3 linked regions of the Homo sapiens genome follow. The protein of the gene in region 3 purifies or fractionates together with the protein of the main gene of each other region. This does not show direct contact. Each region holds a gene or a part of one and is shown on either strand. Other genes may lie near its edges. The genes, in order: AZU1, RAB11A and IDH2.

Region 1 (3,828 bases), on a different chromosome or scaffold from region 3:
ACACACACACACACACACACACATATATATTTTTGTAGAGACTGAGTTTGGCCATGTTGCCCAGGCTGGTCTCGAACTCCTGACCTCAAGCCGTCCTTCCGCCTCGGCCTCCTGAAGCACAGGGGCCACAGGTGCGCGCCACCACTCCCGGCTAATTTTTGTATTTTTTTGTAGAGACCAAGTTTGGACTTGTTTCCCTGGCTAACGTCGGCCTCCCGAGGTGCTGGGATCACAGGTGGCACCATCCTCTCACCTGAAGCAGCATCAGGTCGTTCAGGTTCTGCTGGGGGTCGTAGCCATTCTCGCTCATGCTGCTGATGGAAAACGTCTGGCGGGACTGCCTCTCCCGCCGCCTCAGGTCATAGGCACCCAGCACCACGGTGCTAACCCCGGGGTTCCTGAGAGTAGCGGAGGAAAGGGCAGAGGGAGGACACCAGGCTGGGGCCTGGGCACAGAGCAAGCCGGCTTGCAAATTAGGGGGGATCCCAGCCTGCAGACTGCAATCCTTCACCCTGAAAACTCCCCCGCTTTTACAGAAGCAGAGCCGAGACTTTCCAGGGCCCCCTTCCCATCTTGAGCCCCTTCCCTTCTCTGCGCCTCCTCCTCCATCTGAGCCCCTTCTCTTCTCTGCGCCCCCTCCTCCATCTGAGTCCCTTCCCTTCTCTGAGCCTCCTCCATCTGACCCCCTCCCCTTCTCTGCACCTCCTCCATCTGAGCCCCTTCCCTTATCTGGGCCTCCCCCATCTGACCCCCTTCCCTTCTCTGCACCTCCCCCATCTGACCCCATTCCCTTATCTGGGCCTCCCCCATCTGACCCCCTTCCCTTCTCTGCACCTCCTCCATCTGACCCCCTTCCCTTCTCTGCGCCTCCCCCATCTGAGCCCCTTCCCTTCCCTGGGCCTCCCCCATCTGACCCCCTTCCCTTCTCTGCCCCTCCTCCATCTGAGCCCCTTCCCTTCCCTGGGCCTCCCCCATCTGACCCCCTTCCCTTCTCTGCACCTCCTCCATCTGACCCCCTTCCCTTCTCCGCACCTCCTCCATCTGAGGCCCTTCCCTTCTCTGCACCTCCTCCATCTGAGGCCCTTCTCTTCTCTGCACCTCCTCCATCTGAGCCCCTTCCCTTCTCTGCACCTCCTCCATCTGAGCCCCTTCCCTTCTCTGGGCCTCCCCCATCTGACCCCCTTCCCTTCTCTGCACCTCCTCCATCTGAGCCCCTTCCTTTCTCTGGGCCCCCTCCTCCATCTGAGCCCCTTCCCTTCTCTGGGCCTCCCCCATCTGACCCCCTTTCCTTCACTGCACCTCCTCCATCTGAGCCTCTTCCTTTCTCTGGGCCTCCTCCATCTGACCCCCTTCCCTTCTCTGGGCCTCCTCCATCTGAGCCCCCCAATATCCTTGGGTCCCTCCTCAACTCAGTCCCCATTTCCCTCTCCAAGCCCCCTCCTTTCCCTGAGCCCCTCCTTTTGCAATCCCCTCCCCTCCTCACCTACCAAGCACCCCCACTGAATGCCTAAGCCCCCCAAGCCCCTTCTCTGAGCCCCAATGCCCCCTAGGCCCCCTCCCCAGGACCCCTCACTGGCTTTGGAAGCAGCTGGCCGCGGTCATCACGAAGCGGGCATGGATCAGGGCACCCCCGCAGAAGTGCCTGCCTTGATTCTGAATGGAGGCCAGGAACGGGAACTGGCGGGGCCTCGCCTTCCGGCCGCCAACGATGTCCAAAAGGGGGCTGGAGCCTGGGTCGGGGGGAGACAGCTCTGAGATCCCCAAGAATCCACACAGTGGCCGGGAGGGCGTGTGAAGCTGCAGCCTCAGCTCTATCCACCCAGTGGGGCTGCGGGGGGACCCACCCTCCCCCATCGTCCCACTCCCTAAGAGGACAGGGGGCCCCTGAGTCCCGCACACCGTCCGCCCTCACGCCTTTCGCGGGATCGTCCAGGCCGGGCTGGCTGTGTGACCCAGGCCAAGCCGCTTGCCTTCTCTGTGCTTTAAGTCTGAGTTCTGCCCTGGCAGCCGGGCCCTAGCACAGATGGGGGACCACCGGCACAGAGAGGCACTCACCGGCCCTCGAGGACGCCAGCAGACCAGCCAGCAGGGCCAGGACTGTCAGCCGGGTCATGGCGGGGCAGGTCTGTGGCTAAGGCGGCGGCTGCCCTTATACACAGGCCTTGGCAGTTGGTGGCGTCCCCGCCCAGGCCCAGGGACAGCCCCACTCAGTGGGAACACGGGAAATTGCCCAAGGCCTCCACCGCCAACTGCTCCCTGGGCCAGCCTGGGCTCCCCCTACATTCTGCACTGATCCTCAGTTTCCCTCTCTAGAAGATGGCCACACCCCCAGGGGCAGGTGAGGGTGTCAGGAACCAGTGGATCCCGGAGCCCAGCACATGGCGGGCATGCAGCCAGCACCCAGGAACATTGCCAGCTCAGAGTCCCAGTCTCCCCATCCCAAGCCACTGGGGCTCCAGCACTGCCCGCTGGGCCTGGCACCGGGGGGCTCAGGGCAGTGGAGCTGGCAGTCCTGCGTTGAGTCCTGCGCGTCTGTATGGGTGATTATTATTATTATTATTATTATTATTATTTTGAGACGGAGTTTCGCTCTTGTTGCCCAGGCTGGAGTGCAATGGTGTGATCTCGACTCACTGCAACCTCCGCCTCCCAGGCTCAAGTGATTCTCCTGTCTCAGCCTCCTGAGTAGCTAGGATTACAGTTGTCCACCACCACGCCTGGCTAATTTTTTGTATTTTTAGTAGAGATGGGGTTTCACTATATTGGCCAGGCTGGTCTCAAACTCCCGACCTCAGGTGATCCACCCACCTCGGCCTCCCAAAATGCTGGGATTACAGGTGTGAAACACTGTGCCCGATTGGGTGATTTTTTTAAACTTTTTCAACAGCTTTATTGAGATATAATTGACAAGCTGGGTGCGGTGGCTCACACCTGTAATCCTAGCACTCTGGGAGGCCGAGGCAGGCAGATCACCTGAGGTTGGGCGTTCAAGACCAGCCTGACCAACATGGAGAAACCCCATCTCTACTAAAAATACAAAATTAACTGGGCGTGGTGGCACATGCCTGTAATCCCAGCTACTCAGGAGGCTGAGGCAGGAGAATCACTTGAACCTGGGAGGCGGAGGTTGCAGCGAGCCGAGATCGCACCATTGCACTCCAGCCTGGGCGACAAGAGCAAAACTCCATTTCAAAAAAAAAAAAGAAATTAGCTGGGCGTGGTGGCGGGCGCCTATAGTCCCAGCTACTTGGGAAGCTGAGACAGGATAATCGCTTGAACCTGGGAGGTGGAGGTTGCAGTGAGCCGAGATTGCGCCACTGCACTCCAGCCTGGGTGACACAGAGAGACTCCGTCTCAAAAAAAATAAATAAAAACAAATTAAAAACTATATAAAAATAAATAGACGAAATGTCCAGAACAAGCAAATCTGCAGAGGCAGGAAGTGGATCTGTGGTTGCCAGGGGCCGGGGGAGGGCAGGGGGTGATGGCTGATGGATGGAGATGGGGCTTCCTTCTTTGGGGTGATGGAATGTTCTGGGACTGGACAGCAGTGATGGTTGCACAAGTCGGTGAATGCACCGAAAACCACTTCACTGTACCGTTCAAAATGGCTAATTTTAAGTTATGTAAATTTCATCTCCTTCTTTTGTTTTTTTCAGAGTTGAGGTCTCGCTGTTGCCCAGGCTGGAGGGCAGCGGCACCATCTCAGCTCACTGCAGCCTCAATCTCCTGGGTTCAACTGATCCTCCTGCCTCAGCCTCCCGAGTAGCTGGGACCACAGGCACCCGCCACCGTGCCCGGCTAATTTTTGTATATTTTGTAGAGATG
Region 2 (3,000 bases), about 24 Mb from region 3:
CACTTCCCTAGAAATACCTGAGAAAATGGTATGCTGAGAGATTAGAGGTTGTCAACAGGGGGACAGGTGCTAAAAACAGTACATTATTCATTGGGATGAGAGTTAAAAAGGTCTGAGATTTTGTGGTTTGGAGCAAGGTTAAGTTCCACTGACTCAAACATAGTAAAGGAATCCTGTTGGCTGCTAATTCTCACTACCATCACTGGTACTGGTAACATAGTTAGCCAATATACATAACATTTTGTGCTCACACCCGTGTCAGGAACTATCCTATAATTAATAAATGTCAAAGAATTGAATTTAAATAATGTTTTGACTATTAATAATTAGATCACTAGATCAACAACCCCAAAATACCATGTGTATCATGTACATGCACACATAAACCTGTACACTTGGATTTAATCACTGGTTCTACTGGATAGCTAGCCTGTGGACTGATCTACCTTCTTGTAGATTCCTATTAAAGAAATAATTTTTTAAAAATTAAACACAAAATGTTTTTAAAAGTTCTCTCCCAGACATGAGTATATTTTAAAGTACATATTAAAAGCCAGCAGTTTTTTTTTAACAGCAAAAGCCATAAAACAAGCAGTTCTCAATTTACAGTTAACATAGCAGCCCATCAAGTGCTCCTCTCCCTTAGCATATATGGTACTTTGATGCATATTGTTGATATTGACAGTCATTTTGCAAATAAATGTTCTGAAAGCTTTCATCTTATTTAAAGGAGTAAACATGGAAATAAAGGCACCATTTTAATCAGGTTATTGTGATAAGACCAAAAACATTCCACAAAGTGCATACCTCATTTTGACTTCTCTATTAAATTTAAACTTGAGTTAAAATGTTAATAATTTGGCTTTAATTGAAGAGAGAGTTCATTCAGAGAATTACAGAGTTCGAATTGGGATGAATCCCCAGAGTTTATTTAATCTGGTACCCTCATTAATTGGAAGAATGTGAGGCTCAAAAATGAAATGACCACAAGAGCCATGACTAGAATCTCTTCGTTACTCAGTCCAGTGCTCTATCATACCAGCTACTTTCACTCTTCTAACCCACAGTTTACCGTATTTTCTAATACATGCTAGTATATTGCCTAGTACACAACATCCTTTCAAATATTCTTTCTTTATTCTCCAATTCACTTTTCAGGAGAATAGATAACCTCAATCATATTGATTCTCAGCCTAATGGTCTCCCTTACATAAATTATAATGACATAAGCATTTTGTATCACTTTATTGTTACCATCGACCTCCTACAGTTTGGGGGAACCCAATCATTCTTTAAAACATTAGAATGACAACTCCAGTTGATTTGGCATATTGTATAGGTGAGTGGGAAAGACTTGTCAAATCCCAGAAAGGGGCGTGGCACCAGCACCACCCAACCAGAAGAAAAATCTCTCTTTGGTGCTAGTGTCATAGCTCCCTATCTGTTCCGCTAACCCATTAAATGATGTGGTGGAAGAGGATCCTTTCACAATCTTTGTTCATTTTTTTACAGAGCAAATGGAAGTCATACATAACCTTTTACAAAATTCATTTTTTGTTTTAATTTTTTTCCAGGTATGTGATATTTGTGAGACATCAGAAAATCAATTTATATTTTTTTCCTCTGTTAAACCAAGCCCCACAAATTGAAACCTGACAGGTTAGAATAAGTTCTTAAATATCCACCCAGCCTTTGAATTCTTTTGCTTCTAGTGTTGGCCAAAACTGTCTAAATAGTACAGCTTCTTCTCTAAGGTAGATGGAAGAGATTATCACAACAGCTCAACCCACTAAAAGCATTTGTATTTTATAAATACCAGTCAGCAAAGACAAAAATTAAGATATTCATTTTTTCAATGATCAAAGAAATGTGACCAGCTCTGATGGGCAACCCAAACTCAAGAAGTGTAACTTTTCTGCAGAACCCTTCAGAACTTAAAAGATCACTGATGTAAGGTCACTAGCTGGCACCTCTTCTTATAATTACAATTAAATGGGCAATAACTTACCCTTACATAATGACAACTACTATTAAAGAGAAATCATGGCATTTGAGAACAATGACATAAGATTAAATCAAGGCACCATGGCTAACTATTCAGGAGACTATATAACAGGTTAAAAAAAAATTCAAGGCCAGGCACGGTGGCTCACGCCTTTAATCCCAGCACTTTGGGAGGCCGAGGTGGGTGTATCACCAGGTCAGGAGATCGAGACCACCCTGGCTAACATGGTGAAACCCCGTCTCTACTAAAAATACAAAAAATTAGCCAGTCGTGGTGGCTGGCGCCTATAATCCCAGCTACTCGGGAGGCTGAGGCAGGAGAATGGCATGAACCCTGGAGGTGGAGCTTGCAGTGAGCTGAGATGGTGCCATTGTACTCCAGCCTGGGCAACAGAGCAAGACTCCGTCTCAAAAAAAAAAAAAAAAATTCAAAGTTAAAATAACTGAAAATCAAGGTCAAGTAGCAAAATACTTCTAAACTGCCTTAAGCCCTGAACTGTCATAATATTTAAAAATTTATTGTTTCTTGCTTGAGACAGTTTGTCTCCTAAGATACTACTCAGAATAAAGACACCTGCTGAAATGCAATCAAAGTCATTTTCTAATACCTAATATTTCCTGGAATTCTCCCAAGATCCAGCCATACTCAAAGCAACATTTAAGTCTACACTTGGGTAAAAATTCTAAGTTTACTTTATTCATTTTCAATTCACTATTTAGTTTTTCTCTTTTCTCCTTACTTTGTAAAAAATCTACCACCAACTTTCAATAAAATAGAGATGGTTTCTTTTCCTGGGTCTGGTGACACTGTTATATATGAAAATACACACTACTTTCCTAATGTTTTTGGACATACTTTTTCCAAGGAAAGCATAATTGAACTGCAGTTCTAAAATCAAAGCTGAATTCACACACTGATGCTCCCAATTCAATGTTTACTCAGTAATGCAAGAACCTATGCTTTTACATCAGGATTCCACGGCTGCACCCAAAGCA
Region 3 (3,728 bases):
ACTGAGAACAGCAACATGAGCCAAGGCCAGCAGAGACTTGTTCTGCTTGTTCCAGGTACTGGTTTTTTAAAAAAATCTTAATTGGTGACCAAGTTTTAAAAATCAGTAAATCTCAACAATAAAACAAATAACTCAACGTTAAAATGGACAGAAGACTGGCTGGGCACCGTGGCTCATGCCTGTAATCCCAGCACTTTGGAAGGCTGAAGAGGGCAGATCACTTGAGGTCAGGAGTTCGAGACCAGCCTGGCCACAATGGTGAAACTCTGTGTCTACTAAAAATAGAAAAAAAATTAGCCTGGTGTGGTGACACACACCTGTAGTCCCAGCTATTTGGGAGGCTGAGGCAGGAGAATTGCTTGAACCCAGGAGGTGGAGGTTGCAGTGAGCAGAGATCATGCCACTGCACTCCAGCCTGGGTAACAGGAAGACTCCATCTCAAAATAAATAAATAAATATAATGGACAAAAGACTTAAATAGACATTTCAAGTCCAAAGATGATATACAAATGGCCAACAAGCACATGAAAAGATGCTCAACATCACTAATCATCAGGGAAATGCAAATCAAAACCATAATGAGATATCACCCCACTATCCCCTCACAACCACTAAGAGAGCTACTATCAGGAAAAGAAAAACAAAACAGAAAATAAAGTGCTAGCAAGGATGTGGAGAAATTGGAACTCTTGTGCCCTGTTGGTGGGAATGTGAAATGGTGCAGCTGCTGTGGAAAACAGTATGGGTGTTCCTTAGCTAAAAGGAAAAGAATTACTGCCGGGCACGGTGGCTCGCACCTGTAATCCCAGCACTGTGGAAGGCTGAGGCGGGTGGATCACGAGGTCAGAAGATCGAGACCATCCTGGCTAACACAGTGAAACCCTGACTCTACTAAAAATACAAAAAATTAGCCAGGCGTGGTGGCAGGCGCCTGTAGTCCCAGCTACTGGGGAGGCTGAGGCAGGAGAATGGCATGAACCCGGGAGGCGGAGCTTGCAGTGAGCTGAGATCGCGCCACTGCACTCCAGCATGGGCGAAAGAGAGCAAGACTCCGTCTCGAAAAAAAAAAAGAAAAGAAAAGGACAAGAATTACTATATGATCCAGCAATTCTGCTTCTGTATATACATCCAAAAATATCGAAAGCGGGGTCTGAAAGAGATATATGTATGCCCACATTCATAGCAGCAATGTTCACAACAGCAAAAGATAGAAGCAACCCACGTGTCCATCACAGATGAATGGATAAAGACAATGTGATACAGTCCCCCCTTATCAAAGGTTTTATTTCCATGACGTCAGTTACCTGTGGTGTCAGTTACCCACAGTCAACCATAGTCTGAAAATAGGTGAGTACAGTACAGTAAGATATTTTAAGAGATCACATTCATGTAACTTTCATTACAGTATATTGTTATAATTGTTCTATTTTATTACTAGTTATTATTGCTAATCTCTTACTGTTCCTAATTCATAAATTAAACTTTATCATAGATCTGTATGTATAGGAAAAAAACATAGTATCTACAGGCTTTGCAGTTTCAGGTATCCACTGGGGATCTTGAAATGCATCCTCCAAGGATAAGGGGGACTACTGTTATCTACATACAATGGAATATGATTCAGCCTTGAAAAGAAGGGAAATTCTGACACCTGCTACAAAGTGGATGAACCTGGGGGGCATTATGCTAACTAAGTGAAATAAACCAGTCACAAAAGACAAATACTATATGCTTCTACTTACATGAGGTACCTAGAATAGTCAAATTCATAGAAACAGAAAGTAAAAAGGTGGCTGCCAGGGACTGGGGACGGGAAGTGGGGAGGTATTGTTTCATGGGTAGAGAGTTTCGGTTTTGCAAGGTGACAAAGTTCTGGTGATGGATGGTGGTAATGTCTGCACAACAGTGCGAATGTACTTAACAATACTGTACACTGAACAATGACTAAGATGGTAAGTTTTATACGTTTTTTACCAAAATAATAAAAATTTAAACCAGTCAAAAAAAATCAGGAGATTTTATATAAAAATCTAGAAATGCAGCAGGCACTCACTCATGGCAAGGATGGGCTGGGCTGAAGGCGGCCTCTCCCTTCACTCCATGACAGCCAAGTGCCCTCCAGTGTGGCCCAGGGCACTGGAGTTTGAGACCCCTGTCTGCTGTTCAGCCTGTATGGTGGAGATACAGCCATGGTCTGCCCTTCTCTGAGAGATAAGTGGTGACAAGCTACCTGAAATACACAGAGCAGCAGCTAGGCCTCCCTGAAAACCTCCGAAGTGACAGCCACCACGAATCTTCAGCTGATGCATTGCACAAACACTGTCCTCTTGGCGAGAGTGCAGGATGGAATTACACCAGTCACCAGAGGCACGTTAGGCTGACTCTCCTCCCTGTCTGGGGCTCCTAGCACCCAATACCAAGTAAGGATTTCAAAACACATCCCTGGCTTCTTGCTGCTCCCAGCAGGAGGCTAGAGGTCCAGCCGCAGGCAGCCAGCCCCAGGCATAACTGCTCCCTCCACATTCCTACCCATGCTCTCAGCAGAAAGGCTGCTCAGTCAGCATGTCCCAGCAAAAGATCAGAGAGTGGGGAAAGGTTCCAATTCCTGGGGGCTCAAGAAGGCAGGACAGCAACTTTGTATATTTTATGTATGTATGTATGTATGTATGCATGCATGTATGTATGTATGTATGTATGTATGTATTGAGACAGAGTCTCACTCTGTCGCCTACACTGGAGGGCAGTGGCGTGATCTCGGCTCACTGCAAGCTCCACCTCCTGGGTTCAGGCAATTCTCCTGCCTCAGCCCCTGAGTAGCTGGGACTACAGGCGCCTGCCACCACACCCAGCTAATTTTTGTATTTTTAGTAGAGACCGGGTTTCACCATGGTGGCCAGGCAGGTCTCGAACTCCTGGCCCCAACTGATCCGCCTGCTTCGGCCTCCCAAAGTCCTGGGAGCCACCGCACGCGGCCAGAACAGCCATTTTGGAACAAACTCTAGTAGACTCCTTGGTGTCATCCTTCATTCCTTCCCTTCTCTCACATCCAAACCACCAAAACCAGAAGCCACCCTCAGACAAGCCCACCCTTGCCATAAGTGAGTGCCTGCTGCGTATCTAGATTTTTATGTAAAATCGCCTGAATTGGAACCTTTCCCCACTACTGGCTCCTCCTTCAAAATATATCCAGAATCCAACCACTTCTTCACCATCCCCAGCGCCACCACCCAGGTCCAAGCCATCATCCTCTCTTGCCAGGTCCCTGAAGCTAGAATGCTCCCGATAAGATGGAAATCAGGTAACGATACTCCTCTCAAAACCCTGCAAAGTAAAAGCGAAAGCTCTCAAAAATGGCCTGTGAGCCCTCTACAGACCCCACTGCCGAACCTCATCCTGTCACTCCACCTGGTGCCTGCTGAGCCAGCCTTCGCACCATCCTCTCTGCTCTTCCATCATGCCCTTGGCACCTGCGAGTCCCTCTTCCCCCAATACCGAAAATGGCCTGCTTCCTCCCCTCCTCAGCGATTCCTTCAGTGAGGACTTTTCTGGCTGCCCTATACAAACTTTTGTGCACACACCTTTCTTGCCTGTTTCTCCTTAGCTCTTCTCTTTTTGGGGGGAGAAGGGGGAGGCAGGGTCTTGCTTTGTCACCCAGGCTAGAGTGCAGTGGCACAATTGTACCTCACTGCAGCCTTGACCTCCTGGGCTCAAATGATCCTCCTGAGTAG

What was found.
Region 1: the proteins of IDH2 (region 3) and AZU1 purify together in Homo sapiens (co-immunoprecipitation; one large-scale study listed by IntAct). This does not show direct contact.
Region 2: the proteins of IDH2 (region 3) and RAB11A fractionate together in Homo sapiens (co-fractionation; one large-scale study listed by BioGRID). This does not show direct contact.

What each region holds. Positions count from the first base shown.
Region 1 is NC_000019.10:826,132-829,959, reverse strand, and holds the start of AZU1 (azurocidin preproprotein), read right to left. Parts: upstream 2,124-3,828; 5' UTR 2,114-2,123; coding exon 2,056-2,113; intron 1,731-2,055; coding exon 1,574-1,730; intron 399-1,573; coding exon 254-398; intron 1-253. UniProt on the Homo sapiens protein: This is a neutrophil granule-derived antibacterial and monocyte- and fibroblast-specific chemotactic glycoprotein. Binds heparin.
Region 2 is NC_000015.10:65,889,490-65,892,489, reverse strand, and holds the end of RAB11A (ras-related protein Rab-11A), read right to left. Parts: 3' UTR 501-3,000; downstream 1-500. UniProt on the Homo sapiens protein: The small GTPases Rab are key regulators of intracellular membrane trafficking, from the formation of transport vesicles to their fusion with membranes.
Region 3 is NC_000015.10:90,095,858-90,099,585, forward strand, and holds part of IDH2 (isocitrate dehydrogenase [NADP], mitochondrial isoform 1 precursor), read right to left. Parts: intron 1-3,728. UniProt on the Homo sapiens protein: Plays a role in intermediary metabolism and energy production. It may tightly associate or interact with the pyruvate dehydrogenase complex.